Linked DNA regions of Homo sapiens. The protein of the gene in region 5 purifies or fractionates together with the protein of the main gene of each other region. This does not show direct contact. Each region holds a gene or a part of one and is shown on either strand. Other genes may lie near its edges. The genes, in order: LRRFIP2, TPD52L2, ERC2, MYH14 and SDCCAG8.

Region 1 (6,196 bases), on a different chromosome or scaffold from region 5:
TTCTTCTCCAAAATGTTTTTAAATCATCATATCACATTAAGTCAAAGTGACAATTATTTCAAGCCCCTAAAACAAAGACATTACTAAATTTTTAAATTTAAAAACAAGACAATAAACCCTCAGAGAAAATGGAATGAAAACAATTTATTCTCATGCCATACTTAAGAAAGTCCTTGAACACTCCTGGACAACTGAATAATTACCAGTTTTACAATCCATCTGGCAAAGCCACAGAAGTTATTAAAGAGCTATGTATTTGGTTCCAAACATTTCCTAGTCCCATTACTTGTCAAAATAAACTGACAAATTAAGTTACCAAAATGAAAGAGAGAGTACGATAAATATGGTTTGATCTAAAACACTTACGGCAGGTTCATTTATACAATGTACAAAATAAACAATAGTACACATTATAGCTAATTGAGGGAGAGAAAACCATCTATAAAATTCCCTTCCCAACTTCTCTAGCCAACTTTTTTACTCAAGGTTAAGCAAATTTAGGCAATCTCTGACTTAAAGACTCCATCAGTGTTGACAGTGGAGTTGAGGACATCCCTACTCCCACCCCATCCCTACCACCCCTAGCCCTGCCTTCCCACACCGCTCCTCACTCCCCACTCACACCCTCAACTAGGCACCTAAGGCTCACCTCTCCCCAGAGATCCCAAGACCCTACCTTCCAGGGCCTCTCGTTAATTTCCTCCCCATTACATTCTCCCTTCTCTCCTCCCTTGTACCAACCAAAGCCTTCCAACCCTCTCCCCGTTCAACCCATGGGAACCCTGAATTAGCAAGGAGTTGGGACTGCACTTCCTTTGCCAGTACTGTTGCAGCCTAACAGGAAATGGGTGTTTCCAATGTACCAAGTGGGCATTCTGGAGACATTATTTTCCTCACAGAAATTTGTTTAGCAGCCGGGCACTGTGGCTCATGCCTGTAATCCCAGAACTTCGGGAGGCAGAGGCGGGCAGATCACCTGGCAAAACCCCATCTCTACAAAAATACAAAAATTAGCCAGGAAGAGTGGCACATGCCTGTAATCCCAGCTACTTGGGAGGCTGAGGCAGGAGAATCGCTTGAACCTGGGAGGTGGAGGTTGCAGTGAGCCGAGATCGCGCCATGCACTCCAGCCTGGGAGACAGAGCGAGACTCCATCTCAAAAAAAGAAAAAAAAAAAGAAAAGAAAAAAAGAAAAAGAAAAAAGAAGTGTTGTTTCACAAAGTGACTAGAATAAAGAGTATATTAATTCTGCAGTTTAATTACATTATAGGTTAAAGAGTTTTCAGCAAGCTAGTATGGAAACTTTGCCATTACATATTTATTGAAGAAACTAGAAAATGCATTCCAAGTTCCCAAAACACAAACTTTTAGAATGAAACCTATTTGTGAGTTTAGTTACGGCCCATAATACCACAACTAAATCAATTCAAATTCCTAAAATAAGGATGAGAATCTTACTAAACCTATTCTTGAGGTATATTCCAAAGGACAATTAATAAATGAAAATACTTGTTAATGAGCTTCTTGTGATATAGTACTAACTCTGGCTGCTAGGGTTTGCATATGTTAATACTAAAACTTGCAAATGAAAACAAAATTATTTTTAAATTTCTGATAAATCATGTTTCAGCAGATTATCAAGTTTCAATAATGTCCTAGTAGCACACCAAAGCAATCATAATCCTTAAGTTCCTAACAGTACTTCGTGAATTGTGATATGAGAGACAACAGAACTAACCAGTAGGTCTTTATGAGAATCAGAAGACCTCTTCTTCATTCCATGAGAGTGACTGTAAGAATGATTCTGGAAGTAAATATTCCAAGTTAACTTCAATGATTGCATAGCGAAGTTATGAAAATAATAAAATTCATCTTCAAATTATATACACAAAGGTCTATATGAGATACACAATAGTTTACATGCAATTTATTTCCCAAAGGTTAGTAAACAATTCACTGCACTTTACTAGCTAGTCTACCTGGCCTCTCTACACATCTGCATTCCTCCCTCACCTCCCTCTGTGCCAAGCATCTGTGTGTCTGGCCAGCTAAAGAAAACTTGATTAGAACTAAGAACCAGGCAGAATATTTGTGGAGACCTTCACACCACACTTGAGTCCCTCTGACTTCTTTTTTTTCTTTTTCAATAGAAACAGGGTCTCACTCTGTCACCCAGACAGGGGTATAGTGGTACAATCATGGCTCACTGCAGCCTAGAACTCCTGGACTCCTGCCACAGTCTCCTGAGTAGGTAGGACCACAGGCATGTACCACTACACCCAGCTAATTTGGGGTTGGGGGAACAGGTAGAGACAATGTCTTGCTATGTTGTCCAGGATGGTCTTGAACTCTTGGCCTCAAGTGATCCTCCTGCCTCAACCTCCTGAAATGCTGGGATTACAGGCATGAGACACCACTCCTGGCTAAGGGTATAGGTAACAAGATAATTCATTTCCTTCTATAGTCTTCCTTACCTAAAGGTCAAAAAGCAATCTTTTGGAACAATTAAAACAGGACTGAGAGAACAAAGAACATGACATTAAACTGTCCCAGACAGTACTCTTAACCCAAATTAGTGAATCCACAGTATGTAATGCTCAGGAGGAAAACAACCAACATGGTATGGATTGCCCAGCATACCATAAATGGTCACCTTATAAAAGGGTCCCTTGAAGACAGGATTGTCTCAATACCTAACTTTTCCTAGGAGTACACAGCCAAGTACATATGGGGAAATTAAGGCTAGCAATACTACTAAATAGGTAAATTGGTAGATAAGAAATCTAATCTAGGTACGTACTACTTGCCTGAAATAAGAGAGTGTGGCTAGAAGTGCCCTACCTATCAAGAGCCAAAGGCAACAGACTGCTCTAGGTAAACCATCTCACATATATATAGCTGTATTCCCAATCAATGATTAAAAACTCATTTTACTTTTTTTTTTTTGAATATGCATCTTTTTATACATTACTCTGAATATTTTAAGAGATGTCTATGTAATTTAGAAACTCAGGCAACCTATTGACAAAATATTAACCCAAGAAAAACAAGCTATAACTTAAATTCCTTGGTTAATGACATACCATAAAAAACTAACCAAATCAAACCAAAATGTTTGGACATAACTGATGTCTTAGGTGTCCTCTAACACTACTGGATGTTTTCTATCTAGCAACTTCACACCTGCCAGCTTTGTGACATATGACATAAAACACAATTTGGGCTTGTGCTCAACATGAAGACAAGTTTCTAACAGTGTTAGAATGACAATGAGTATATGTTAGGTGGGTGGCTCATCATTTTAAGAAAAGATATATTACTACCAGCTGGGCATGATGGCTCACATATGTAATCCCATCACTTTGGGAGGCCAAGGTGGGAGGATCACTTGAGACCAAAAGTTCGAGACCAGCCTGGACAGCATAGCAAAACCCCATCTCTACAAAAAAAATAAAACAATTAGCTGGGCATGGTGGCACATGTTTATAGTACTCGCTACTCAGAAGGCTGAGGTGGGAGGATCCCTTGAATCCAGGAGTTCAAGGTTGCAGTCAGTAAGCTATGATTGCACCACTGCACTCCAGCCTGGTTGACAGAGAGGGACCCCATCTTTAAAATTAAAAAAAAAAAAAAGATATTACTACCAATCCTAGTCCTCAATAGATAAGAATAACTTGTGTCTAATTCTGAAATCCTAAAGAAAAAAATTACTATTCATGCCACAACCACAAAACATTAGCTTTTTGCTTTGTTAGTCACACATTTTCCCCAAAAGTTCATAACAAAGCCATGAAAGTTAGTCATATTCTATAATTAGCATCAACAGATGTTTATAAAGTAAAATTCCACATATAACACAAAGTCATGTGCTACATACTAATGATGAAAGTCTTGATGATCTATCCTTGAACATATCATACTGGGTTTCAGCAAAACATGAAAGTTGGTTTGTTTCCAAATTCAGAAATATAAAGAAGAGAAGAAGTAATATTTGAGGTTATTTTAAAAATCCAGCACTATTTTAAAATAAAAAATTATTAAACATGAAAGCTAATCCAGTTGAATTAAAAAATATTCTTCCTCCTACTTTTTCCTAGTATAAAGTATTGCTAAACTGTATGTATATTCAAAACTGTATGTTTATTTTTCTTTTAAACAACAAAATTCATAATCAGTAATAGTGATATGATTCAATCTCAGTACACTATAGCACAAAACATCCTAAGGGAGCCTTTAAATACAAGAATTAAGCATTCTAAAGTCAAAAATGCTTTTTAAGAAAATTATTATCACTTTTAACATCATTTCCTATTGTTTGAAAAATGGCAAAAGCAAAGGATGAACAGGCAATGAGGCAAGCTGACATAACAAGCATGGTCAAGCTTACAAAAGAACAATTGCAGCACCAAGATGGGGAACATTCCCTTGGATCTGCTTGTGAACAAACACCTAAGAATGTCCTTCCTCAAGAAAATGCCGATTTCTCATTTTGAGAAATCTGGTCAATGTGTGAACTGCACAGTATACATACAGGTGTGACACTGAATATAAATCAAAGAAAAATATACAAAACTCGTAAGACCAGAACACCCACATTTCATGTAGGATCCTTTTTAAAAGTAAGATATGTAATACCACATTTCAAATCCAGGGAAGAAAAACTAAATAGTAACTACATAGATTTATGGTTTTCACACATCGTTTCTTAAGCATTCTAGTTTATATTTTTAAGCTGTCTACCCAGAAAGTCATATACAAAACAAATAAAAGCAATGAACAAGTTCCTCAGGTAGTTTAAATACTAATTGTTTGATAAAAATATCTTTCTTTTCCAACTCTTATATTCATTTAAAATTTTAAGCAATACTATTCAAAAACCCAATCTAAAGTAACGTTTTCATAAGGATAGGTTGCAATTCATCAGTAGTTCATAAAATCAACTTAGTAGGGTCAACCAGCTTTTTTTGAGACAGGGTTTCACTCTTTTGCCCAGGTTGGAGTACAATAGCTTGATCATAGTTCACCGCAACATCGAACTCCTGGGTTCAAGTGATCCTCCCACTTCAGGCTCCCAAGTACCTGGAACTACAGAACTACAGGAACATGCCACCATACTTACCTAATTTTTTTTTTTTTAATTTTAGGAGATGGGGTCTTGCTATGTTGCCCAGGTTGGTCTTGAACTCCTGGGCTCAAGCAATTCTCCTACCTCAGCCTTCCAAAGGGCTGGGATTACAGGCAGAGGCCACCGTACCCTGCCCTCAACCAGCATTTTAAAAACTAAACTAGAAGAGAAAATATTAGAGGGTGTTGTGCAAAGTAAGTGCAAATATTATTTTGTGAAACTTTTGTTTCAATAATGTATTTTCTATACTTTTACATATATACAAATCCACATGCATGAATCTTCATGTGTATACTGACTTATGGTGTAAAATGTATTTCTTGTTGTAGAGATCACAATTTTTAAAAAGCTTAAAATATATTAGAAAATCAAAGTATATAATCTAGTTCTAATAAGACATTAAAATAATAGTTCAGTCAGAATAAAGCCCTTCCATTCATGCCTAATGAAATGGTCATTTACAAAAAACATTGCAGAAACCTCAAAAAATAAATTCCATAAGTATCAGACTAAGTGGTACCATTTTACCACTGGTATAAATTCATTGAAAATGTTATTGTAATAAATACCAATTTTATTGGAGCAAAATATCTGTACCGCATGCTTTTCTTATATTATCCTGAAACTAACAGAAAACACAATAAAAAATATTATTATTGCATGTGTAACAAAATCTTGTTACAAAATTTTCTAAAATGCGTAATAGTATGCATTTAAACTGTGTAGTAGTAAAATGTCACTTACCATGGAGAGACACTTCCCCAAAAATAAAGTTGCTTCTCTATAGAAATTTCTAAATTAAAAAAAATCTAACCCTTTTGTTTAAAAAAAAAAAAAAAACCTCCATGACCAAAACATATTACTCAAGTCACACATTCTAGCAGATAAGCTATTCCATCCTCCAAATAAGGTAAGTTCATGGAAAAGAGTAGCTGTCTTTCCTCTTATCATCCTCTCTATAGCACCAGTGGCATTTTACACAGGCATAGGATTTAACAAGCCAAACTGGAAATAACCTGTTTCAATTTTCCTTTTCCAAAATATAATGTAGAATTCAGCTGGTTTAAAAAA
Region 2 (6,196 bases), on a different chromosome or scaffold from region 5:
TGCATTTGTGCCTAAAGAGTGGGGATGGGGAAGCTGCACCTGCATTTGTGCCTAAAGAGTGGGGATGGGGAAGCTGCACCTGCATTTGTGCCCTAAGAGTGGGGATGGGGAAGCTGCACCTGCATTTGTGCCCTAAGAGTGGGGATGGGGAAGCTGCACCTGCATTTGTGCCCTAAGAGTGGGGATGGGAAAGCTGCACCTGCATTTGTGCCCTAAGAGTGGGGATGGGAAAGCTGCACCTGCATTTGTGCCTAAAGAGTGGGGATGGGGAAGCTGCACCTGCATTTGTGCCCTAAGAGTGGGGATGGGGAAGCTGCACCTGCATTTGTGCCCTAAGAGTGGGGATGGGGAAGCTACACCTGCATTTGTGCCTAAAGAGTGGGCATGGGGAAGCTACACCTGCATTTGTGCCCTAAGAGTGGGGATGGGGAAACCGAAGTTGGAGAGAAAACAACCGCCTGTGCCCGGCCTTCAGAATGAGATGTGGGGTCCTGAGCGTGACCTGTGGGTGGGTAAGTACCACCCACACAAGGAGGATCGGAATGAGATGCGGGTCCTGAGCGTGACCTGTGGGTGGGTAAATGCCACCCACACAAGGAGGAGGGTCCTGAGGGTTCCTGGCCACTGACCACTGGCCACTGACACCCGGTGCCACTGTGATCAGTCCCTGCTGTGCCATAAACCACACTCAAGCCCCTGGGGGCCCCACAGCCCTCAGCATTGCTCGGGTGTGGAAATGAGGGGGTCACAAGGGAACCTCCTCTAGAAACAGGAACCTCCAAACTGGGATGGCCCTGGAAACAATGGGCATCACCTGCATAGCCTGAGGCCACCACCAGCGCCTCCCTGGCCTTCTCTTCCTACAGCAGGTCCCTGCCCAACAGCTGTGGCTCTGACCTCTCCCTTCCCCTTCTCAGTCCCATCCTGGGCCTCCAAGGTGGCGGCAGCAGCTGTGAGGCCCCCTTCCAAGGCTCACAGCGCTGCAGGCCTGTTCTGAGAGCGTCAAACACACAGGCACACACATTCCTCAGTGGACCAGAAGGCTGGGTTGTTATTACTCCATGACAGATGGGGAAGCTGAGCCCGGGAGGAAGGGGCAGGGGTCAGAGCCAGCATCTGCACCCAATAACTAGCTTCAGCTCTCCTTGAGAGCACCGGGCCGGGCAACCCCAGCCAGCACCCATTTGGGAGTTCCTAAGACCTTCTAGGAAGAGAGCCCTGGACAGACAGCGGTTTCGTCCCACTGCCAGTGAGCTGTCCCCTGGGCAGCACAGGGCATCTGGGGGACATCCTTGCACTCCCCCTCTCCTGAGTCTGTCTCTGGGGGCTGCCCCCACTCCCACTCAGGATGGACAAGTGATCCAGGCCTGGCCAGAGCACACCACCTCCAAGGCCGCAGCCATTAGTCCAGGGAGACCCATATGGGGCCACACTGTTGGGCTGCAGCAGTGGGGGCAGGGACTTCTCTGCCTGGTGAGTGCTCCCACCTCCCTGTTTGGTTGATGCTACCTTGAGTCGTGCTTTCTGTCACCTGCAACCAAAACAACTCCAAGTGAACCAGCTCATAACTGCAGGATCTATATGATGCCCCTCTCAGCACTGAGGTTTTTAGTTACCTCTGCCTATAAATAGAATGCAACAGGCAATTGTTTCACCACTCGCAGAACACAGCTGCTCTCGCATTCAGACATGACCCACTGAGAATGTGGCCGCATTGCAGCCTCATGGGGCCAGGCACCAGTGCTATCCTCCACCCACCGGCCACGTTCTCCTTCCCGTCCATCCTCCAGGGCGCCAATAGCTGAAAGGATCTACAAACACGTGGGTCAGGATGCAGGGAGCTTTTACTGCCTTCCCCTGCAGAGCTCTGGGCAGTGGAGGTACATCTACAGCCCATCTCCTGAAGCTGACTAGGAGAGGCACCAGCCAGGAAGAGCACGCGCCATGGCCACATCCTCAGGCCCCACCTCCCAAGCCGCATCCCTTCCGTCTGGGCCGTCCCGGCAGAAACCACCGCCCTCGGCCTCGGCCGTCCCGGCAGAAACCATCGCCCTCGGCCTGGGCCTTCCCACCAGAAACCATCGCCCTCGGCCTGGGCCGTCCCGGCAGAAACCATCGCCCTCGGCCTGGGCCTTCCCGGCAGAAACGCTTCCACTCTGGAACCGTCAGTTGACAGCTCTCGCCACAGAACTCAGGGGAATGGCCTCGGCCAGGTGATGCACTGGCCATATGCTTCCATGCTGAGCCACAGGTTTCTCCAGAGGGGTCGGGACGCTGAGTGTTGTAATAAGCTCTCTAAAACACTATTTATTTGAAATAGGATCCCGGCAGCTTTATGTCAGTTGGTTTTACAAAACAGCACTGAAGTCTCCTAAGACTATTTTCAGACTGAGTCTGCACTGTGCGTCCGCCTGATGCCCAAACTGCAAGGATGACCGTCACTGTCCCAACCTAGGAACCATCTGCTGCCCAGCAAAGTCACTGTTCAACAGCCCGAGACACAGCCCACCAGGGTCCCTAGAACACCCTGCTCAAGCCGGGTGCAGTGGGTCACGCCTGTCATCCCAGCACTTTGGGAGGCCGAGATGGGCGGATCACGAGGTCAGGAGATCGAAACCATCCTGGCTAACACCATGAAACCCTGTCTCTACTAAAAATACAAAAAATTAGCCGGGCGTGGTGGTGGGCGCCTGTAGTCCCAGCACTTTGGGAGGCTGAGGCAGGCGGATCACGAGGTCAGGAGATTGAGACCATCCTGGCTGACATGGTGAAATCCTGTCTCTACTAAAAATAGAAAAAATTAGCCGGGCGTGGTGGCGGGCGCCTGTAGTCCCAGCTACTGGGGAGGCTGAGGCAGGAGAATGGTGTGAACCCGGGAGGCGGAGCTTGCAGTGAGCCCAGATGGCGCCACTGCACTCCAGCCTGGGAGACAGAACGAGACGTTGTCTCAAAAAAAAAACCAAACAAACAAAAAAAACCCAGGGCAACATGCCATGAACCACCCGGGTCCCCAGAGCACCCAGATGTACAGCTGGCTGCTGTAGCCATGCCCACAAACCGCCCGGGTCCCTGGAATACCCAGGGCAACATGCCGTGAACCGCCCGGGTCCCCAGAGCACCCAGATGTACAGCTGGCTGCTGTAGCCATGCCCACGAACCACCCGGGTCCCTGGAATACCCGGGGCAACATGCCGAGAACCGCCCGGGGTTCCTGACACCAGCCTCCCACCGTGACACCAGACGCAAAGGCTCCATGTGCACGCAGTGCCAGCCTGGTCCCCCAGGACCTTCAAGACAAGCTCGGCAGCAACTGCTTCCTTTCAGACCAACATGGGAGGACTTTCTGCCCATGTTCTGTGGCAACGATTACAGCGCTTCCTTCTAAATAACAGATGAAAAAATCCCACAGAGACTATTTAAAAATATTCCCCTCCTCAGTTTAAAGACGTTATAATCAGATCAGAGCACAAGTAAATGAAGTGCTATTATCTAGTTTAAGGATCTCCAAATATTAGGAGTCACTCTGAACAACACCACTGACACACACATACAAAACTATCCACACTTGATCCACACTGGCTGATGCTCTGACAATGCAGTGCCTCCCAGATCGTGAGGATTTCAAATTTCCACCAGCATATCCTACACCATGCCCTCCACTCAAGAACTACCCCTAAAGGAGGAAAGGAATTCTGAGAACCCAACAGCTGGAGCTAAGCAGGGAAAAGGGTTAGGGTTAGAACAAACAAAAATTCGCCACCAACAAACCCAGGCCAAGTGGTGTTGTCCAGCTTGTGCACTGCCGGAAGCCAAGGAGCTCTATTAGTTAGAGATACAGCCAGGACCAGTGCAGGCCTCTTACATAAGGGACGCATATCAGGCAGAGGGGAGTTTTAAGTGTGGTCAGGTGGCTGAGTGAGTTTCTCTCAGCTACTATTCCCTGTTCCACAAAAGTTTAAAGGATAGTTTACCTGAGAGAAGAAAAGTTATAGGAAGAAAAAATAGCCAGCAAATACCAAAACAAGCTTTGTGCCAAGTGTGCACAGCCCCCTTCCCCGACTGAGTGTCAGGAGGCGGAGAGGAGGAAGGAGGAGGTGCTGATGATACAGGCACTCACAGGTCTGACTGGGTCACTTTCTCATTCCACTCTCCAAGTTTCTCAGAAGTTTTCACATAGCTAAAAACAGAAAGTCTACAGTGAATTATTTAGAAGAACAATTTTAACTCAGGCATCAAACTGCAGGTGAAGTTCCAGGGAAGACAGAGAGGGACCAGCTGGCAGGAACATCAACTCCACAGACGGCCCAAAAATGGGGTCCACTGCCTCAACCAGGCCCTGTGCAGGCCCCAGGCCGCCAGGTGAGCTGTGGGTATAGCGGAACTGATGTTCCCTTTTCTGTCACCTGGCAGTAGCCCCTGGTCTCTCGCTAGGAGATTCTTGGGCAACAGCACTGCTGTGGGGGACTGGAAGGGCACAGCCCACAGCTCCAAAACACCCTTGGGATTCAAAACTTACGATGTCCTAGGACAAAAACATGGGCCTCTCATATGTGAGATTTATGAAATGTGACCTGTTCTGTCTTTGTATAGGAACATGTCTTCTGGGAAACATTCCACAGCCACCCCAACCTTGAAGGGTATGTTTCAGAGAAGCCACGTGGACAGGGCCAAGTGAGAAAGCAGCACTCCCCAAATTCAGAGCTGAGCGACATCTGGGACAGGTGTCCCAGGGTTATAGGACCACGTCGTCATGTAGGACCACGTCGTCATCGGGGAGGGTCAGAGTCCCTAGGGTTGTGGGACCATATGGTCCTATATATAAATATATATATATATATATTTTTTTTTTTTGAGACAGAGTCTTGCTCTGTCACCCAGGCTGGAGGGCAGTGGCATAATTTTGGCTCACTGCAACCTCCGCCTCCCGGGTTAAAGAGATTCTCCTGCCTCAGCCTCCCTAGTAGCCGAGATCACAGGTGCGCACCACCACGCCCAGCTAAATTTTTTTATTTTTTAGTAGAGACAGGGTTTCTCCATGTTGGTCAGGCTAGTCTTGAACTCCTAACCTCAAGTGATACACCCGCCTCAGCCTCCCAAAGTGCTGGGATTGTAGGCATGAGCCACCATGCCCGGCCCATATGGCCATATCTGGGTCAGAGGCTGTGACCATGCCACACCCACAACAAGGACCACAGAAAAACCGCTCTTGCCAAGGACCTGATCAGTGCTCTCTCAAGTCTGGACCCTGAAACAGTCTTCCTATCATTTTCCACCAGGACAACTAGCCAGTGTGTCTGCCTTTTTAGAACACGTATATAAGCCGGATGTGGTGGCTCACACGTGTAATCCCAAGCATTTTAGGAGGCCAAAACAAGAGGATTGCTTGAGCCCAGAAATTTGAGACCAGCCTAGGTAGCAAAGCAAGACCCTGTCTCTATAAAACGTGAAAAAATTAGCCAGGCATGGTGGCGCACGCCTGTCATCCCAGCTACGAGGGGGGTTGAGTTGGGAGGATTGCTTGAACCCAGGAGGTTGAGGTTGCAGTGAATCATGATTGCGCCACTGCACTCCAGCCTGGGTGACAGAGCGAAACCATCTCAAAAAAGAATAATAATAAAAAAAAAAAAAAGGCCAGCGTGGTGGCCAGCACTTTGGGAGGCTGAGGTGGGTGGATCACAAGGTCAGGAGTTCAAGACCAGCCTGGCCAACATGGTGAAACCCCATCTCTACTAAAAACACACACACACACACACACACACACACAAAAAAAAAAATCAGCCGGGCGCGGTGGGAGGCGCCTGTAATCCCAGCTACTTGGGAGGCTGAGGCAGGAGAATCGCTTGAACCCGGGGGGCAGAGGTTGCAGCGAGCTAAGATCACGCCACTACACTCCAGCCTGGGCGACAGAGTGAGACTCTGTCTCAAAAAAAATAATAATAAAGTACACAAAAACTTAAAAATAAATAAAACACATGTAGACACCAAGCTTTTTGAACAAACAAGGCACAGTCGCTGGGCCAAGGGCTCAGAGCCTCTCTCTGGATCCTTCCAAACAGGCCACTCAACTCCACGGCTGCAACTCGTCCCTGGGCATGACGACGCCCCCCCACATGCCGGGGCACGTGTGGTGCCCGTTCTCTTCAGCCCCCAGGGGTGCGCCTGGGGCAGGTACCTACGCGCTAGAGACCTGCACGTC
Region 3 (6,196 bases), on a different chromosome or scaffold from region 5:
GTCTGTTTGCTTCTGTGCTTTAATAAAATACTTTTACAGTTTTGGCAGGGAGGGGTGTGGAAGGTGATGGTGTCATGGTTTTCACCAGCAAGACTTTCACGGGTGGATGAATCATGGGTGAAGGACCAGATCCATCTCAACTCACTACTAGTGAAAGCCTGATTTTTCAACACCCTTCTCCCTGAATTCATTAGAAAAATTACTGATTGATCCAAAGAGCTGTCACTTTATAGAAGTTGTACCTGGATGTGAACATAATTCTGTGAATTAAGCCTTTCATAAACAGACTGTGAGCCAGAATATACTGATTAGAATGGTTTTCATGTAGAAGCCGGGTTTGTCAAAGCAGTATTATTACTATTACTATCATCATCATTGTTATTGCATAGGCAAGCACTTTGTTGAGTACTTTATATGCATTATCTTTTTTAAACCTTGTGGAGCCCCTGTGAGGTAGGTACTATTCTTACGCCCAAATTATAGATGAGTAACTAGAAGGAATTCAGTATCTTGCCACAGTTTAGTATGAAAGCAAGAACCTGAGCCCGGGTTCGTCTTACCCAGAGCCCATGACCTTGGCCGTGGCCTTGACTTCAAATTTTGGTTGTGTAGTCTGCATGTGTCCAGTCTGAAGTGTGGGTTCTCCCAGCATACGTAGAGCTAACCATTTTAAGAGTCCACTGTGATTCTGACAGTCCTTTTATCAGCCTGTTTTGCCTTTGCATTTGAAGGCTGTGGCATGGGCCAATAGGCAAATTTAGTAACTCTGTTTATTATATATTTCCAGTAGAAACATAATAAAATATAAAAAATATAACACATAATAAAATAAAAATTTTGGCTCGATAAAAATTTGGTTCCAAACTTAATGATGATGACTTAAAAGAAGGTAAAACAAAACAAAATTCACACTCTTCCATTTTTCTTGACACCTTAAATTTCCAATTAGAGTTTTAAATAGATCTTGGTTGAATAAATGCTCTTAACATCCTTCAGTTGTCTCCCCACCAAGGGATTAGGGTTTTATTTTCTTTGTTATTTACAGAGACCCTTTTCCATTAGTGATTAGGTATAATGATATTTAAAATTATTCTTTTGTAATAGCATGACCGTCTTGTTTTATTTTATTTTTTATTGTTTTTTGAAATGGAGTCTTGCTCTGTCACCAGGCTGGAGTGCAGTGGCGTGATCTTGGCTCACTGCAATCTCTGCCTCCCGGGTTCAAGTGATTCTCCTGCCTCAGCCTCCCAAGTAGCTGGGATTACAGGTGCCCGCCACCATGCCTCTCTAATTTTTGTATTTTTAGTACAGACTGGGTTTCACCATGTTGGCCAGGCTGGTCTTGAACTCCTGACCTCAGGTGATCCTCCTGCCTTGGCCTCCCAAAGTGCTGGCATTACAGGTGTGAACCACCATGACCGGCCCCTCTTGTTTTGTTATGTTGGAAAAGCTACAAGATGTAAGCCTTATCAGTCTCTTCCCATTGGTGAAACTCAGTGGTGAAGGTTTGCCAAAACAGGTATCCTGAAAAATAAGGTGAATGGTATTGCAGTCCACAAATTTACCTAAAGAGTCTTTGACTTTGGTTAGGTTGACTTTTGTACAATCTGCATTTGCTTGTTTTACTAGGACACCCTCTAGCCTTTTTTTTTTTCTTTTTTCTTTTTTTAAAATCCTCTAACCAGTTAACATTTTGGCTGGTCCGTGGGGCATCTACTTGCCAGCCAACAGTTTCAGTTTCAGCAATGTTTACACTATTCCTTTATATTTTATTGTGATTTTCTTAGTTTAGAAAGATAGGATGAATGGAAAGCACAGAAAAGCACCAATATTCATGGTAATGTAGATCTCATAAATTTAAAATAGTTGATCCAAAGGTAGAACTCACTGGATGTACAAAACATGGAGACTCTACAACCTCTTCTTCTTATGTGAAGAAAAGGAACAAAATGAATGAAGATATAAGACATGCTAACATATATCAAATGATAAGATATATTAGTCAGCTTTGGCAGTGTAACAAAACTCCCTGACTTACAGCAACAGGTATTTATTTTCACACTCATGGGTCTTCAGGTTGACCGTGATTTGGCTGGTATAGGTTGGGCTCCTTGGGGTGGCTGTGTAGAGGCTGTGGGTTGGGTTCCAGTCTCCTCCACATGTGTCCTGGGGCCCAGGCTGAAGGGATGGCAGCTACCTGGGGCATGCTTTTCTCCTGGCAGATCACTGGAGCCAAGAGGCAAACTACACGAGCAAATGTCACTTTCACTAATAACCTGTTTTGGAAAAGTACTATTTTGGACAACACTTGTCTGTAAACGTAGACTCTGTTCACAGTAAGGGAGCGAATATTTGATGAACTATCATCCAGCTTCCAACAGCATGTAAAAATTATGGTTAGAGGATTTTCTAATTTTTTCTTTTTCTTGGGGAATGCAATTTTCATCCCCTCACTCCCATTGCTAGCTGCGTGACATATAAACCTGGTCCTTAACTTCTGCATTTCAGGAATATTCTCTGTTTGATTTTAGAGGGCTGGCTATAAAACAGGTTTGTGTATACACATGAATTACTTAAATTATTAAGGCACTATTTATTAGAACCTACTGTGTTCCAAGAGACAATGTTCAGTGCAGTGGTGAACACAGTTTTATTCTGATGTGGGTCCTGCCACCATGAAACTTATCATTAGGAATAGGTGTAAGGAAGGACTTCTTGGATGCAATGGCATTTTCCTGGACCTTAAAGCAGGGAGAGAGTTGGAGATGCAGATAGAGCAATGGATACCATAAAAATGTAGGGGCACACATGGATATAATGAGTTATTCCACTTGGCCAGAGAGTAAGAAAGGTGAATTACAACAACAATAATAATTATAACACTAGTATTTATAGCTTAACTTCTATTGGGCAGTTAACTATGTGTTAGGCACTGTGCTTAGCACTTTCCATAAGATATTTAATATTGGGTAGGCTTGCTGGTTGCCTACCCAACATTCATTTTCTCCTTTCCAACTAAAAGAACCCCAATTTTGTCTGAGATGGAAATAAGCCCACCTCACCTTCCCAAGACTCCCTTGGACTTAGAGTGGCCATGAGAGTTGGGTCTGATAATGGCATAGGTGGAAGTTTTTGGGTGGAGGCTTTCCTGAAAATGTAGTGAGTGAGACACACGTGGGTGGTATACTCCAAGAACTTTTCAGCTCTTTAACTTCTTGCTGCTGAGATCATTGGTGCAATGCCTGGAGGGGCAGCAGCCAACTACAACAATGAAGATAAAGCCATGGTTTTTGTTTTTTTTTGTTTGCTTTTGAGACAGGGCCTCACTCTGTCACCCAGGCTGGAGTGCAGTGGCACCGATCTCAGCTCACTGCAGCCTTGACTTCCCCGGCTCAAGTGATTCTCCCACCTCAGTCTTCCCAGTAGCTGGAACTACAGGTGCGCACTACCATGCCTGGCTGATTTTTGTATACTTTTGTAAAGATGAGATTTCCCCATGTTGCCCAGGCTGGTCTTGAACTCCCGAGCTCAAGTGATCTGCCTGCCTTGGCCTCCCAAAGTGCTGGGATTAGAGGTGTGAGCCACCATGCCCAGCCAAAATCGTGTCTTACAAATGGCAAAGCTGGAGCCTGGAAGGATCTTGGTCTTGGTGACATCGTTCATTCATAGTACCAGCTTAGACTGCCTTCCCCTGTAGTTCTTATTGCATAAAACTAAAAAGCTCTTTACTTGTAAGCCACTACTTATTACTTGCAGCCGCACATACTCCTCACTGATACATACCTTCTCAAGAAAACCCTCAAAGTAGGTGCTATCACCTATTTTGCAGGTGAGAACATTAAAACTTAGAGGGGTTAAGGACTTGCCCAACCAGTAAGTAGAAGCATTGGGGGTTCAAAACAACATCATTTTGACTTTCAGGATCATCATCTTGCCTCTGGCTGTGCAGGACAAGTACCATAGTGGAGATAATGTTGGAAAATTAGGCTGGATTAAGATTTAGGAGGCATCTGGATTCCTGGTTGAAATATTTGAGTTTGATTTCATGGGCTAGTGAGTATAAAGCCATTGAAAAAGACAGAGACCAGAGGTTGGGAGACCACTGAGGCTTGAGTGCATGACATACATGCTTTAGTACGAGTGAAGGTGGAGGGAAAACTGGGCATGAAACAGAGCTGGGGACATGAGAAGATAATGGAATTGAGTGAACCCAAATCATAGTTGCTGTTAACCTATGATCATCTGAGAGCAAAATGAAAGTCTCCTGAAGGCTAGTATTCACTTCTACTGATGGCTTCACATTTGCCCAGAAGTAGGGAATGAGTAATGTAGAGAATTGCTAATGAGATATGAATCACTATTTCATGCTGTGGGGTGGGGTCTTCTACTCATTGTCAATACCATTTATTGAGCCCTTGACGACCTTGTATTAAATGACTTTGGTCTGGGTCTGGCTCCACTGTGCCAGTTAAAGGTAGCAGAGATGAAGGGTAAGGTCAGAAGGTGCTGCAGTGGTACATTAGATTCTGTCCATGGACTTATTTCTGCTAAACATTCTAGACCTTCCTTGAGGGGTAGATTGGGGTTACTTTAACTGTCTGTGTCTCCTTTTTTTCTTCTCTTTACTTTTTAAATTTGTAAAATAAAGGATTTGGTTTACATTCATAGTTTTCAAATGTTTTTCAGCTGTTAAAACTTTGTTTCCTAAATAAAAATTTATCTGGACCCTCAGTATATTTATAGAAAGCAGAGCTGTTCTGGAAATTTAGGGTCCAGATTTATGTTGTATGAAGTGTCTTTATGTTGAGGCCACTGCTCTAAAATGACACCTACACACCCTTCCTGGTTCATGATTATGTGAATCTTATAGCTGTTCAGATGTTTTATTTGTGCATCATCTTTAACAAATCCCTTTGTTATTCCACAGGTTGTGTCTTAATATCATCTGTGGTAGAGACTGTTAATGTTCCCCATAGCCACTTTTTCTTTCCTTCCAGGCATATGTTGGAGGTGGCTTGCATCACTTCCATGCTAGAATATTTGATTTCCAGTGTGAGAGCACCCAGTGCCCTCTTCTACTGCAATGATTACGGAAATGTGTGTTGAGATGGAGCCCTTCATCTGCCTGGGCCTTTCAGTCACTAAATGAACACAGCTTCCCGTCAACTGGAGTTGGACATATAGACCAAGAAGTAAACTTTGGTTGTTTTAAGCCATGAAGAGTTTTGTGATTTTTGGTTTCTGCAGCACTTTTCTGCTTATCTTTACTGATACACCATCTTTGAGCACATCTGCTAAACTTTATGTAACTTACTTTTTGGGTGCCTTCTGGATTAACCTGAAGCCTGGCCAGCTTGTCCTTACTTTGTAGTTAGGAAAAGAGTGGGCTGGCATCTACATCCGCTGTCCGTGCTGGTCTCTGTGCTAATAGATTCTTTGAATTGAAAGCTTTATGCTCAATAACATTTGTTTTCATGCTTAAAAAGTTCCTGAAGACATATTGTATAGTGCACCTCACTGTTCTTTAAAAAAAAAAAAAAAGCCTTTATGCCATCTTGCTTTTTTTTTTTTTTTTTGTATTTTTAGTAGAGACGGGGTTTCACCGTGTTAGCCAGGATGGTCTTGATCTCGTGACCCCGTGATCCGCCCGCCTCGGCCTCCCAAAGTGCTAGGATTACAGGCGTGAGCCACCACGCTAGGCCGCCATGTTGCTTTTTCAAGTATAGAATCTCTGTGGCTTAGAGAGGAATAATGACTATAAGTTACCATAACAATGGCTGTTATTAAGTAGTGATTGATTTGTGAAGTATTTATTGAGTATCTACTTTGTGTTAGGCACTGGGGGTACAGAGATGAACAACAGATAGTTCCTTACTACTTGGAGCTAATACTCCAGTTGGAAGTGATGGATACGTTTGCTCTGTTATATGAAGAGCACCATTTATTGAGCATTTACTATGTGGTAGGCACTGTGCTAGGTGCTTTATATTGCTCATTTCATATTACCTATACAGGTAAATGTATTATCCCATTTTATAGGTGAGGAAACTGAGACTCAAATAATTTGATAAGTTCCATAAAGGCAGGAGCTTTGCCTTTGGCTGTATCCCTAGTGCCTAGATGTTCTGTAAGTATTTGTCAAATGACTGAAGGAACAGAAAAACTTGCTCAGAGTTAATGCTGTGGCAGAGCCAGA
Region 4 (6,196 bases), on a different chromosome or scaffold from region 5:
GTCCACCTTGGCCTCCCAAAGTGCTGGGATTACAGGCGTGAGCCACCGCGCCTGGCCGCTCATTTTGTTTTCTTGCCAAATTGCATGGACTGGTATTTCTACAGCTACCTTTTCATGTCAATAAAAGATTAAGGCAAACTGACAAATGCCAGAAACTTGGAACCTGGAAAAAACAGGATGCCAGTTCTGCCAGCTTTCTAAAACCATTTCTCAAACCTCCTCTAAGGATGGGGGGGCAGGGGCAGTGGCAGAAAAGGCTTGGAAAAGGTCAGAGTCCTACCACAGGGCATTTGGCATCTCTGCCTATGACCCCTAGAAGTGTCAATCCAAAAAGACAGTCACACTCATGGGGGCCTTTTGGGGGCAGGAAAGCCCTCCAAAACTGTATCTCAGTCTGTTTTTTCTTTCTTCTTCCCTGGGGGCGTGAAGGGAACTTTGTAAGAAAACAAAGAAAGCAAAGCCTAAAAGTTGACTGACCTGCAAAAGATCATCATTCTGTGTTCTCTTATTGTTATAAATTATTTCTCAGTAGAATTTTTTTTTTTTTTTTGGGACAGAGTCTCACACTGTCACCCAGGCTGGATTGCAGTGACACAATCTTGGCTCACTGAAACCTCTACCTCCCAGATTCAAGCGATTCTCCTGCCTCAGCCTCCCTAGTAGCTGAGACTACAGGCATGCACCAGGACATCTGGCTAATTGTTGTACTTTTAGTAGAGACAGGGTTTCACCATGTTGGCCAGGCTGGTCTTGAACTCCTGACCTCAAGTGATCCGCCCACCTTGGCCTCCCAAAAGTGCTGGGATTACAGGTGTGAGCCACCATGCCCAGCCAAATCTCCTAATTGTTTAGGGAACACAGGCCATCTAAAAATAATAAGTTTACTTCTTCCTGTTCGATATTCATACTTTTTCTGGTCTGATTGCATAGGCTAGTATTGCTAAAAAAACGATGTTTAACAGTAGTGTTAGTGGGTATCTTTGCCACGTTTCTGATTAAGGCGGAGTGCTTTATCCTTGAGAAGGATGCTGGCTTATCAATCAAATCAATAGTCAATCAATTAATCTATGGATCCATCCATCACTGATTTGAAATACTATTTGTGACACTGGCTATTCTGGGTCTGAGCAGAAAACTCAGGTTCAGACCTCCGCCTCTGAAACAAAGGTGCTCACGCTGTGGATTTGGAGAATGGCCGCACAGACCCCTAGAGCCGGGGTGGGGGAAGTGGGTCCTCACCGTCTTTCCAGATCTCTGCCGTCAGCCGGTCTGTGCTCTGGTGGAGCAAGGCTGCGACGTTGTCATTCAGAGGGTCCATGTTTTTCATCAGCCACTCGTTGGCCTTGTAGTCGACCTGAATGAAGTCAGGTAGAGGAGGGCGATGACTTGCAGGCTCAGACATTCTCTGGATTTCCTAAGGAGCCTTCCAGAAGCTCTGAGACTCCCAGGTCTGGAGCTCACCATGGACAAGCGAGCACTGGTGCCACCTTGTGTCCATATTCTGAACTGCACCCCACCAGCATGGTCCCCTCTCTCTCCTTCCCCTCTATGCCCCCTGCCACCTCTGTGACCTCCACCACCACCACTTTCTTCCTATTCATTCCGCTCCAGCCACCCTGGCCTCCGCACTGTTCCTCAAACATGCGAGCTTACTCCCACCTCGGGGTTTTACCCCTGCGGTTCCTGCCACCTGGGGTTCTGTCTCTGTGGGTTTCACACCACTGGCTCCTTCTGGGTACTCAGGGCTTTGCTGTGGGGCTCCATAGAGTCACGATCTTGGCCGCTACAATTCTCTGCATATGTGCCCCCCACCAGACAGCGGTCCCCCGAGGGCAGGGCCCAGGTCTGACTCACGGCCTAGCAGAGGGCTGGGTACAGGGGGAGTTCTGGAGTATGTCTGGGGAAGAAACTGAGGGCTAGACACAGAACACATGGAATCTCCTGCCTCCCAGCCATTGTCTATGCTGTTCCCTCTGCCTGGAGAGCCCTTCCCACCCTTCACCCATCCTCTGGGGCTGCCTGGTCCACATCATCAAAACCAGGGGTCAGCAAACTATGGCTCACAGGCAAAATCCAGCCTGCCACCTCTTTTTGCAAATACTTTCACTGGAATAGGGCTGGGCGCGGTGGCTCACACCTGTAATCCCAGCACTTTGGGAGGCCTATGCGGGTGGATCAACTGAGGTCAGGAGTTCGAGAGCAGCCTGGCCAACATGGTGAAACCCTGTCTCTACTAAAAATACAAAAATTAGCCAGGCATGGTGGCAGGTGCCTGTAATCCCAGCTACTGGGGAGGCTGAGGCAGAAGAATTGCTTGAACCTAGGAGGCGGAGATTGCAGTGAGCCGAGATCGTGCCACTGCACTCCAGCCTGGGTAACAGAGGGAGACTCTGTCTCAAATAAAAAAAAATACATATATATATGTGTGTGTGTGTGTGTGTGTGTGTGTGTGTGTGTGTGTGTGTGTGTGTAGTGTGTATATATATATGTGTGTATATATATATGTGTGTATATATATATGTGTATATATATATAGGAATAGAACCTTCATTTATGTCTTCATAGTCAAACTCATGGGGGCCCTTCTGGGGGCAAGAGAGCCCTCGAAACTGTTTCTCAGTCTGTTTTTCCTTTCTTTTTCCCTGGGGGCTTGAAGATACTTATGTATTATCTGTGGCTCTTTTTGTGTGACCACAGCAGAATTGTGTAGCTGTGACAGAGATCGTCTGGCCCACAAAGCTGAAACTATTTACTATCGGACCCTTTACAGAAAATGTTTGCCGGCCCTTGACTGAGATTTGAGATTGAGCATATTCTCTTCTGTGAAGCTTTCCCAGGTACTTCTCTTCTGGGCTCTGACACTACCCTCAGCTGCCTCCACTGAAAGACCTATTAACCTTATATCCTGATCGTCTGTATTTGCCTCCCTCCCAGATAGGGATCTTTGTGAGGACAGAAACCATGTTTGATCTGTGTATCCAGCTTTGCTCGGCCCCGAGCTGGGCACACAAATGGCACCCCGCACATATCTGCTGAATAAGTGGATAAAATGCACATAGATCGCCTCCTGATGAACTCCTACCCATCCCTCAAAACCCACTGCAAATATCACCTCTTTGAGGAAGTTTTTGGTGATCCCATCAGACAGAATCCTTGCTCCTCCCTGGGCTCTCCTAGCCCCTGCTCTGTTTGTCTGGACCTCAGGAGGACCCTGTTTTCCCTCTGCACCCTCCCCCCATCTGTAGCCAGTGGAGATCCCTTGATCCCCACTCCCACATGCCCCAAGGCCGGCCCCAGCCCCTACCTTGCCCGCGTAGTGGAGAACACTGAAGTCGGCCTGATCCCGCAGGTGCCTCGGCCGCTGGAACTTGGGGTGGCCGCCCTGCTCCTGGGCTACCTTCTCCACAAACGACTTGTCTGTGGCCTTCGGGAACCAGCACTCCTCATCCAGCAGGGCCAGGAGTCCAGGGGGGTTGGCCTGGCCATTGACAGCAGGGGGAGAGTAAGTCAGATCCCCACATATTGGACACTCAGGTGGCTGCTGATTTTTAGCTCTTATAAGTCACACTTGGACATAAAAACAAACGTGAGATGCCAGGCACGGTGGCTCACGCCTGTAATCCCAGCACTTTGGGAGGCCGAGGCGGGTAGATCACGAGGTCAGGAGATCGAGACCATCCTGGCTAACACAGTGAAACCCCCGACTCTACTAAAAATACAAAAAATTAGCCGGGCGTGGTGGCGGGCACCTGTAGTCCCAGCTACTCGGGAGGCTGAGGCAGGAGAATGGCGTGAACCCAGGGGGCGAAGCTTGCAGTAAGCAGAGATCGCGCCGCTGCACTCCAGCCTGGGCGATAGAGCGAGACTCCGTCTCAAGAAAAAAACAAAACAAAACAAAACAAACAAACAAAAAACAAACGTGAGAACAACAGTTACGGTGAGAGCTCTGATTAACCGATTGATTTGAGCCGGGCCCTGTGGCAGGCACATTCTGGGCCCTAATCACCTATGGTCACAAAAGATCGAGGAAGCAGGTGCTGTCACCTTCCCCACAGAACCCATGGGGCATCCTGAGGCCCAGCAGAGGAGGAGCTAGACCCTGGTCTCGCAGATGCTGGGAGAGACGGATCTGAACCGTGAGTGTGGGCTGGGAGGGGCCTGGGGCTCACCGGCCGCTCGATGAGGTCGATGCAGGGCTGCAGGTCGAGGCCAAAGTCGAGGAAGGTCCAGGGGATGCCCTCACGCTGGTACTCCTCCTGCTCCAGCACGAACATGGTGTGGTTGAAGAGCTGCTGCAGCTTCTCGTTGGTGTAGTTGATGCAGAGCTGCTCGAAGGAGTTCAGCTGCAGGGACGCAGGACACGTGAGCTGGGAGGATGGAGAGGGACAGAGACCCAGAGACAGGGGACAGAGACCCAGAGACAGGGGACAGAGATGCATCGAGAGGGGACAGAGACCCAGAGAGAGGGGGACAGAGACCCAGAGAGAGGGGGACAGAGACCCAGAGACAGGGGACAGAGCCAGAGACAGGGGACAGAGACCCAGAGACAGAGAGGCAGAGACCCAGAGACAGGGGACAGAGATGCAGAGAGAGAGGACAGAGACCCAGAGAGAGAGGGGGACAGAGACCCAGAGACAGGGGACAGAGACCCAGAGAGAGAAGGGGACAGAGACCCAGAGACAGGGGACAGAGACCCAGAGAGAGGGGGACAGAGACCAGAGAGAGGGGGGAACAGAGACTCAGAGAGAGAGAGGGGGACAGAGACCAGGGAGAAGGGGAGAGACCCAGGGCTTCAGAAAGGACCAGGACCGGAGTGAGGAAGTTGGCATCCCCCTCCCAGCACAAGGGTGGACCTGGAAGATCTCAAAGCCCGCGATGTCCAGGATGCCCAGGAAGGAGGCGCCTTGGCGGGGGCTGCGGTCCAAGGCCCGGTTGAGGCGCAGAACCAGCCAGCGGAAGAGGCGCTCGTAGGTGGCCTTGGCCAGGGCCTCCAGCGCGAAGTCAGCCTGTGGGACAGGGCTCATGGTAAGGGCGCAGCCTGCACATCAGCAGACTGAAAGACGTCGGGGGTGAACCGGGGAAGGGCCCCCAGCTCGTCCCCCTTAAGGTCGCCTCCCAGCTCCTTGAGTGTAAGTACCATCAAGAACAATGCCATGAACAACAGGCAGACATTCCTGAAGTCCTACTGCGCACCAGGTACTACATGACGGGCTCGGATGTGTTAGCCCTTGAATCCTTCCCTCACCCCCTCAAAGCAGTTTCTACCGCACAGCGGTTAAGAGCGTGGACTCTGGAGCCGGACAACTTGGGTTTGAATCCCAGCTCTGCCACTTAGGGGCTGTGTGATTTCAGGCATGTGAATAAACCTCTCTGTGCCTCAGTTTTCTCCTCTGTAAAATGGGAACTAACAACAGTACCCCAGCTGAGATTGAACCCGGGTCAGTGTGGCTCCCAGACTCCTCATCTCCCCCACGGGGTCTTCATCCAGGTACCTCACTGCCCAGCCTGGGGCCAGCAGAGGCCTCTGCCCAAAAGCTGGATTCTGAAACCCTCCCTGGCCTGTGGTCGCTCCACTCCACCCTCCCTGCTCATGGTGTGAGCTCCCACGATTGCCAAGACTCTGGATGCAGCCTCCTTAGGTCTCCCCGCCTCTACCTGCATCCCTGAACCCAATTCTCCATGCAGCAGCCAAGGGGATCTTTCTATGAAAGACAAACTGAATCAAGTCACTCCCTGGCTTAAAACCTCAATGGCCTCCTATGTAGTTTGAATAAAACTCACCTCCTTACTGTGGCCCCTAAGACCCTGCATGATCTGCCCCTTGCTGACATTTCTGACTGTGGATTCACCCACCCTCTCTCCCTTGCTCTTCAGCCTCACTGACCTGACCTCCTTCAATTTTCTTTTTTTCTTTTCTTTTTTTTTTTTTTTTTGAGACAGAGTCTCGCTCTGTCACCCAGGCTGAAGTGCAGTGGCGTGCTCTCAGCTCACTGCAACCTCTGCCTCCTAGGTTCAAGTGATCCTCGTGTCTCAGCCTCCCAAGTAGCTGGGACTACAGGCGTGTGCCACATACCCAGCTAATTTTTGTATTTTAGTAGAGACGGAGATTCACCATGTTGCCCAGGCTGATCTTGAACTCCTGAGCTCAATCTGTCCGCCTCAGCCTCCCAAAGAGCTGGGATTACAGGCATGAGCC
Region 5 (6,247 bases):
TTCCCATCCCTGATTTCCAGCTTCTTAAAGCTGACTGTTCTTGCAGGGGCCACTTGCTTCTCCTAGAGTACAAAAGTAAGGGCCTTCCTTACTAACTGCAGGGTCTCTCTATTACACCTCAACATACACACTTTGCTGCTACTGTTTGTACTGTCTACAGTAGAATTTCCTTATCTTGCTCCTGGTAGTGCATTACAGGCAAGCATGAAATGTAAAGTATTTATTTAAATAAAAAGAAAACCTCTAAATTGGTAATTGAATTACCTCCCTGTAGCTTTATAGTTTGTGACATTTCTTGACCTTGCTAGTTCTTTCATTAGATCTGCGCAAGATCTAGTCATCTGGTTAAGGATTTTAAGCAGATGCAACTATAAACCCAAGAAACTGTATTACTATTACTGTTGGTCATACTAAACCTGTCTATTTCCTGAAGTATATGACCCACAAGGATGTGGAATAACTAGGAGAAACTGTTTTTGTACACTGTACATCCTTAGTATTTTTACACGTATATGATAGGGATGAACATGATTTTCCTTCGTACAGACAGCTTAAATAAAGCACTATGTCAATCTGCTACTTCTCTGTTTATTGTTGTTGGATGTGGTTCTATAATCCCCCCAAATTAAATCTTCTTTAATGAAAACATGATTTTTAATAGCCCCAGCTGGTATTAACCTACCTTGTATAAAATGTGACAGGAAAATATAGAAATAATTCCTTGTAGCTCACACACACACACATAGGGGATCATTTTTACTTCAGTGAAATGGCAGTAGTGCGGTTGTGCAAACTTTGATGAACGGCTGCTTCTGAGGGGAAACGCTGACCTCTCAGCACTGGATTTAGGATGGATGTACTGTGAAGCCAGGGATGAAGGAGGTCTCAGACCCTGGGGACATTCAGACCCGAATCATCTATACAACACACGGTTTGGACCCAGAATCTGAAGGAATGTAGCTTTTCATTAACGTCTTCCTGATAATGTACTGCTCTGCATATTTCCTTTCTTAGAGTGTATTTCTAACAACATGTCATGGCAAATTAACAAACTTAGACGTGGGTGATGTAGATGGGTAGGATGGCTGGACTGCAGTCTGACTTCACGTTGAATCATTCTGGATGGGGCCTTTTTCTGATTTTACCTCATAAAGCTACTATTGTAGAAACTTGGCTTTGCTCCTGTGACGAAGCCAGACAGAGGAATGGCTTTTGGGACCAGAGTGAGTCAAGCATGTATGTGTATGTCACACGGCCAAATTTGAGGGCATTCTCACATGTGCTCTTCTCTCAAAACCACTGGGGTTGACAGATCCAGGAGGCTAAAAAAAAGTGACCTCTATAATTCTTTAAAGGTGCTATTTTTAGAATATTGTATAATTTATTCACAGTATATCTAAAACAGAATTAAGGACAATTAAAATATCTTATGTGACAGCCTTTATGTCTAGCACATTTGATGAAATAAAAAACTTCTGAATCTGAATAGAAGTTCTACTGTTTCAGGCTTGAACCTTTTACATGCTCAAGAGATTCAAATGGTCTCTGTGTGTAGATCATGCCACCGCCTCCAAAGCCTAATCCACATCACTTCTGAGAGGCAAGGCTGAGCATATGGTGACATCAGCTCTGTGTTGAGATGGTGATGAGGATGATGGCTCGCTGGCCAGGCAGGGCAGCCGAAGGTCAGGGACCTGTCCTAACTAACTGCAGCCTTGCCTTTAGTGTTTGTCATTCTCAGATACAACACGGTATGTCCAGTGTCCGTTTTTATTACTTTAAAGCATTTGAGGGCTTAATTGTGTATAGTAGAAATACTATTTTAGACAAATAATTATCTGTGTACAGATATTTGATATACTCTAAGTAAATTTTCTAATTTCACTAAGTACGTTTTTAGGCTCCTCTCAAATACTGCGTATTGAAGAAAAAAATCTGACACCACCGAGCCAAAGATGCTTTTTTGTCTGTTTTCGTTGTTTAACAGAATGGAAAGAGTAATGCATAGTGCTTCCTGGTGTCTCCTGATTGATTGATTGTGCACAAAGTAGGACGATAAATAAATAAAATGGAGTCTGATGGGACATTGATTAAAGGTGAAGGATGATTGATATATAGATCATGAAAAGAAAAATGAATGGCAGGAAAAAAAGTTTGGTCCTTAATATACTTTGGCCTAGTTAAAATATGTGCCTTTTTGGTGTGTTTTGTTCATCACTACAAGATAAAAAGGAAACATTACAACTCAAGTCTTTAAAAAGTTCATTTATTGAAAATCATATGTATAACCTAGCATACGAATGAGCAGATTTAAACACATAACTTCAAGCCATTTCTGAAAACATACACCAGGAGCTCTGCTCAGCTAGAGTCAGACTCCAGCTCCAGCCCGACTGCGTGCGGGGACAGCGCCCGCGTTGATGAGGACCAGCCCCACTGCAGGCTGAGGCGGTGTCACCCTGGGAAGGTCGTGGTGCGTTGTGGCATATTAAGTCTAAACCAGATGAATGTAAATATCTCTTTGTAAATCATTTATTTCACTCTGTTCCATCCAGGTCAGCAATCAGATTGTGGCATGCTGGGTAACTGGAAAAAATAATAAAAAGTAAGTTTCAATAGCTCATGTTCTTCAATGTTATTTGTCTTCTCATTTGCTGGTTTAGTCACCTTTTATGATGAAAACTGTTGTTGGAGAAAAAAACCTGTTGCTAAAAATGTGGAAATTATATGAAAAGTTTGTGCCTCATCTTGTCCACATCAAAGCCCTTCACATATGAAATAAGGTTAACTGGTTTAATGGGTTAAATTTGAAGACAACCTAGACAAAAGACACGCCTGCCTCTTAAATAAGGACAGTCTGGTGTTAGGACATGGCCAGAGAGCCATCTCTTCTGTCCGGGAAAGGACACATTGATTTGTGCCATAATCTGTTTACTGAAAATTTATCTGACCTTAACGGCAGGTAATTCTAGAACAAAAACAGGGTGTAGGCCAAGTGCCCCTAAGAAATTCCTCGTGAAACAATACAAGCTGAAACACCTCCAAATTTGTAACTGCAAGCAATTTATTGTAACCTATGAAAAAGTACTTTCACATGGAAACCTCACATGTGTTGGAAGAGGGGATTGGGTGTACTGAGGTCTCTTAGTTTTACGCAGATACAAATGTTCCAAAGTAGCTTCATGCAGATCAGGTTGGGGGAGAATCACAAGTTCAGAAAGTATTGAATACTGTTCCTGGCCTCTGCTGCCATGGCTGCCCAAATTAGTTTAAACCACATCAGGAACTAGAGTCAGAAGCCACTGGAAATGTTTCCACTCCACAAAGCATGTCTGGAGTTTCTACTGTGCACTGTGTGGGAAGGTGACTGGGCCACAGTCCTCGCCCTCTAGATTGTGAAGTCCAGAGAAAAGCCAGGATGGTATTTTCCAAATCCCGGTTTCTACGTCAGATAAATTGGGACGCACTGCAGGGCCAGGGGCCCAATCTGGTCCCTCTTTCTTTAGTTAGGAACCATCTTCCAAAAAGAGAAGTGGGCCTGCCCCTCTCCAGTGAGGATTTTCCAAGCTGGACTCCAAGGGAGGACTCTATCAACCTAATTTAAGCCATCATTAACATGGGGATTTCCAAGACAGGGCAATGAGTGAAACTGAATCCGCATTCAAGAGAAATATATGAACATCAGCCTGTTGCCTTTTATGAAAAATGAGAAAAAGTAATGTTTACATTTCAAGTAGATTTCCCAGTGTGTGAGAGACCCTGAGGACAACTTTTTCTTGAACAGGTCTGTGAGTAGTGGGGTGGTCTCAGCAGGGTAGTTAGAGTAGGTGGGGGGCCTGGCCTCAGGCTGAATGCAGGTGGGGCTCCGGCAGGAGGCCTCACTCCTCCTCGTAAACCTGCCATCCCATGCACACAGCCCTCCCAGGCCCGTGGAGCCAGGTGGACAATTTCCTGGGCCCACGGGATGCTTTGTTCTCCAGGCCCTGTCTGAGTGGCCCATGAGGAGTCCACCCCATGCACTATGCCCTAGAGCCCTGCCATTGCAGAGGGGACTCCCTTCTGTCCTCAGTGGGATACTGACAGCACGGAGACTGCCACCAACACGATCTGATTGTCAAACGCAGGGTTTGCACCAAGCTGACGTGCCCTCCAGGCCAGGTGATCGAACTGACCCAGCACAGTCCTGCTAAATGACTGGTTTGAATGGCCCTCCACCCCTGCTCCATGGATTGGCCACATAAGGCAGGTGGCCTGGTGGCCTCGCTCTTGACACAGTGGCTTCCTAACTTTAGAAATGCTAGGATGACTGAATACAAAAGGGATAAGCATAAATCCCAACAGATAACACTTCAAAAGAAAAACAACCCAACAGTGGCTCACACCTGTAATCCCAGTGCTTTGGGAGGCTGGGGCAATAGGATCGCTTGAGTCCAGGAGTTCGAGACCAGCCTGGGCAACATAGTGAGACCTCATCTCTACAAAAAAAATTGTAAAAATTAGCCATGTGTGGTGGCGCACCCCTGTAGTCCCAGCGACTCAAAAGGCTGATGTAGGAGAATTGCTGTAGCCCAGAATTCAAGGCTGCAGTGATGAATTTTGGGTAGAGAACACACCCACGTACACACAATACAGAATAGGCGTAAAGACCTGAAGTAAAAGTAAAATGTGTTGCGGAATTTTTTGATAAGCTCCAGGAAACAGGCATTTCTCATGATGAGTCTACATAATGCCTGTGGGCTCCCAGGCCACCTAGCAATTTATCACTATCGGAGCTGTTCCAGAAACGGGTGACCTCCTGATTCCGTGGGCCTGCATGGGGGTGACACAGATGTACGGGCCTCACCAGGAACCAATCAAAAGTCAGCCTGATTCCTTCCTGCGGCAGATCAGCCATGGCCATCTCTATGGGCTTTGTATTTCCTGCGGTTCAGGTGAGAAGCCCCATATCCATCCCCACTTTCACACTGTTGAACTTACCGTTCACTGCTCAACGCCCCCCCCCCCACCCGTGCCTACAGCCGTGCCTGACCCATGGTGAGCGTTCAGTCAGCACTGGAGGGCTGGATAATTTGTCCTAGGAGGTCACCGTTTTGTCGCCTCCATTTGCTGACTCTTTGGTAACACACATTTCTCTGACCGAGACAGAAGCCTTAGTTACTGCCCACATCTGGCTTGTCTGCCATTAGGGATATCCACGATGCTTATTTCCAGGAAGTCCTGTCATCAACACCACAGTGATCATGGTCTCGTCCAGGAGAGTAGAGCGTGCGTATGCCAGTGGGACATGAGCCCTCAGCCAGTGTCTCCCGTCCTTCTGCCCTTCCATTTGTCATCATGGCCCTTGCTGTGGCCCTCCTGTGGCTGTCCTGCAGCTCAGAGGGGGGCGACAGGGCGCCCTGGCCACTGCTCCCCTGCCGTGCTGTCCACAGGTGGTGGAAACGTGCCCCCATCTGCAGGCACACAGCTGCTAACCCATTTTCTTTGTTCTCATTTTAAATCCTATCGGAGTCATCTCTCCACAAACCCTGCCTCATTTATTTCTAAAGTTTGTTAAGTTCTGAGTGTAAGAAATCAGTTGCTCTGGGTGACCTGAACTGTTCCCCAGGCAACCACACTGTGGGGTCCAGCCAGCCTTTGCTGCTGCTTTGTTCCCAAACCAGCCAGAAGTGGCAGCCCGGGGAGATGGTGGCACCCCTCGCCCCTGCTCACAGGAGACCTGCCCGGGCTTCGCACTTCACTGTCTCCGTGGGTGGCTCTAGCCAACCCTTCTGAAGGTAACAACCCCTTCCCCCCCTGCTGTCCGCTCTGCTCACTGGCACGCTGTCTCTGTTTGGCCAAGTCAAAACGTGGTCCTGTTCCTTGTGTGTCTGGCAATAAAGCATCCATTTGTAACTGGAGAGGGCAGGCCCCTCCCCCTACCTCCATCTGGGGCATTTCAAAGCTGGCCCTGAGTTGACAGAGCTCCAGGGCAGCCCCTGCCTCGCTTGGTGGCTCGCCTCCCGCCTCCGCCTCGTGTTCTGGGCACCGGGGCCAGGGCTCGGCAGCTGTTCCAGCCAGGCCCGGCTCCGCCCGCACCCGCTCGGGTACCTGCCCCCATCCACACATCCTGTGGCCTGAGAAGAAGTTCATTTCCCTGCCCAGCCACTTCCCAATTCCATTCACTTCATTTCTCTGGGCCTTATTTTTCTATCTGTACAAAATGGTTATTTATCTCAAATGGCCCTTTCAAGCCCACAATGATCTCAGC

The links.
Region 1: the proteins of SDCCAG8 (region 5) and LRRFIP2 purify together in Homo sapiens (co-immunoprecipitation; one study listed by IntAct). This does not show direct contact.
Region 2: the proteins of SDCCAG8 (region 5) and TPD52L2 purify together in Homo sapiens (affinity purification with mass spectrometry, with the first as the bait; one large-scale study listed by BioGRID). This does not show direct contact.
Region 3: the proteins of SDCCAG8 (region 5) and ERC2 purify together in Homo sapiens (co-immunoprecipitation; one study listed by IntAct). This does not show direct contact.
Region 4: the proteins of SDCCAG8 (region 5) and MYH14 purify together in Homo sapiens (co-immunoprecipitation; one study listed by IntAct). This does not show direct contact.

What each region holds. Positions count from the first base shown.
Region 1 is NC_000003.12:37,111,177-37,117,372, forward strand, and holds part of LRRFIP2 (leucine-rich repeat flightless-interacting protein 2), read right to left. Parts: intron 3,920-6,196; coding exon 3,878-3,919; intron 1,805-3,877; coding exon 1,739-1,804; intron 1-1,738. UniProt on the Homo sapiens protein: May function as activator of the canonical Wnt signaling pathway, in association with DVL3, upstream of CTNNB1/beta-catenin.
Region 2 is NC_000020.11:63,873,797-63,879,992, reverse strand, and holds part of TPD52L2 (tumor protein D54), read right to left. Parts: coding exon 6,177-6,196; intron 4,178-6,176; coding exon 4,118-4,177; intron 1-4,117.
Region 3 is NC_000003.12:56,460,345-56,466,540, reverse strand, and holds part of ERC2 (ERC protein 2), read left to right. Parts: intron 1-6,196. UniProt on the Homo sapiens protein: Thought to be involved in the organization of the cytomatrix at the nerve terminals active zone (CAZ) which regulates neurotransmitter release. Seems to act together with BSN. May recruit liprin-alpha proteins to the CAZ.
Region 4 is NC_000019.10:50,247,797-50,253,992, reverse strand, and holds part of MYH14 (myosin-14), read right to left. Parts: intron 5,007-6,196; coding exon 4,854-5,006; intron 4,344-4,853; coding exon 4,170-4,343; intron 3,479-4,169; coding exon 3,305-3,478; intron 1,355-3,304; coding exon 1,240-1,354; intron 1-1,239. UniProt on the Homo sapiens protein: Cellular myosin that appears to play a role in cytokinesis, cell shape, and specialized functions such as secretion and capping.
Region 5 is NC_000001.11:243,496,095-243,502,341, reverse strand, and holds the end of SDCCAG8 (serologically defined colon cancer antigen 8), read right to left. Parts: intron 2,619-6,247; exon of another isoform or gene 2,600-2,618; coding exon of another isoform or gene 2,587-2,599; coding exon 2,557-2,586; coding exon of another isoform or gene 2,556-2,556; 3' UTR 2,251-2,555; downstream 1-2,250. UniProt on the Homo sapiens protein: Plays a role in the establishment of cell polarity and epithelial lumen formation. Also plays an essential role in ciliogenesis and subsequent Hedgehog signaling pathway that requires the presence of intact primary cilia for pathway activation.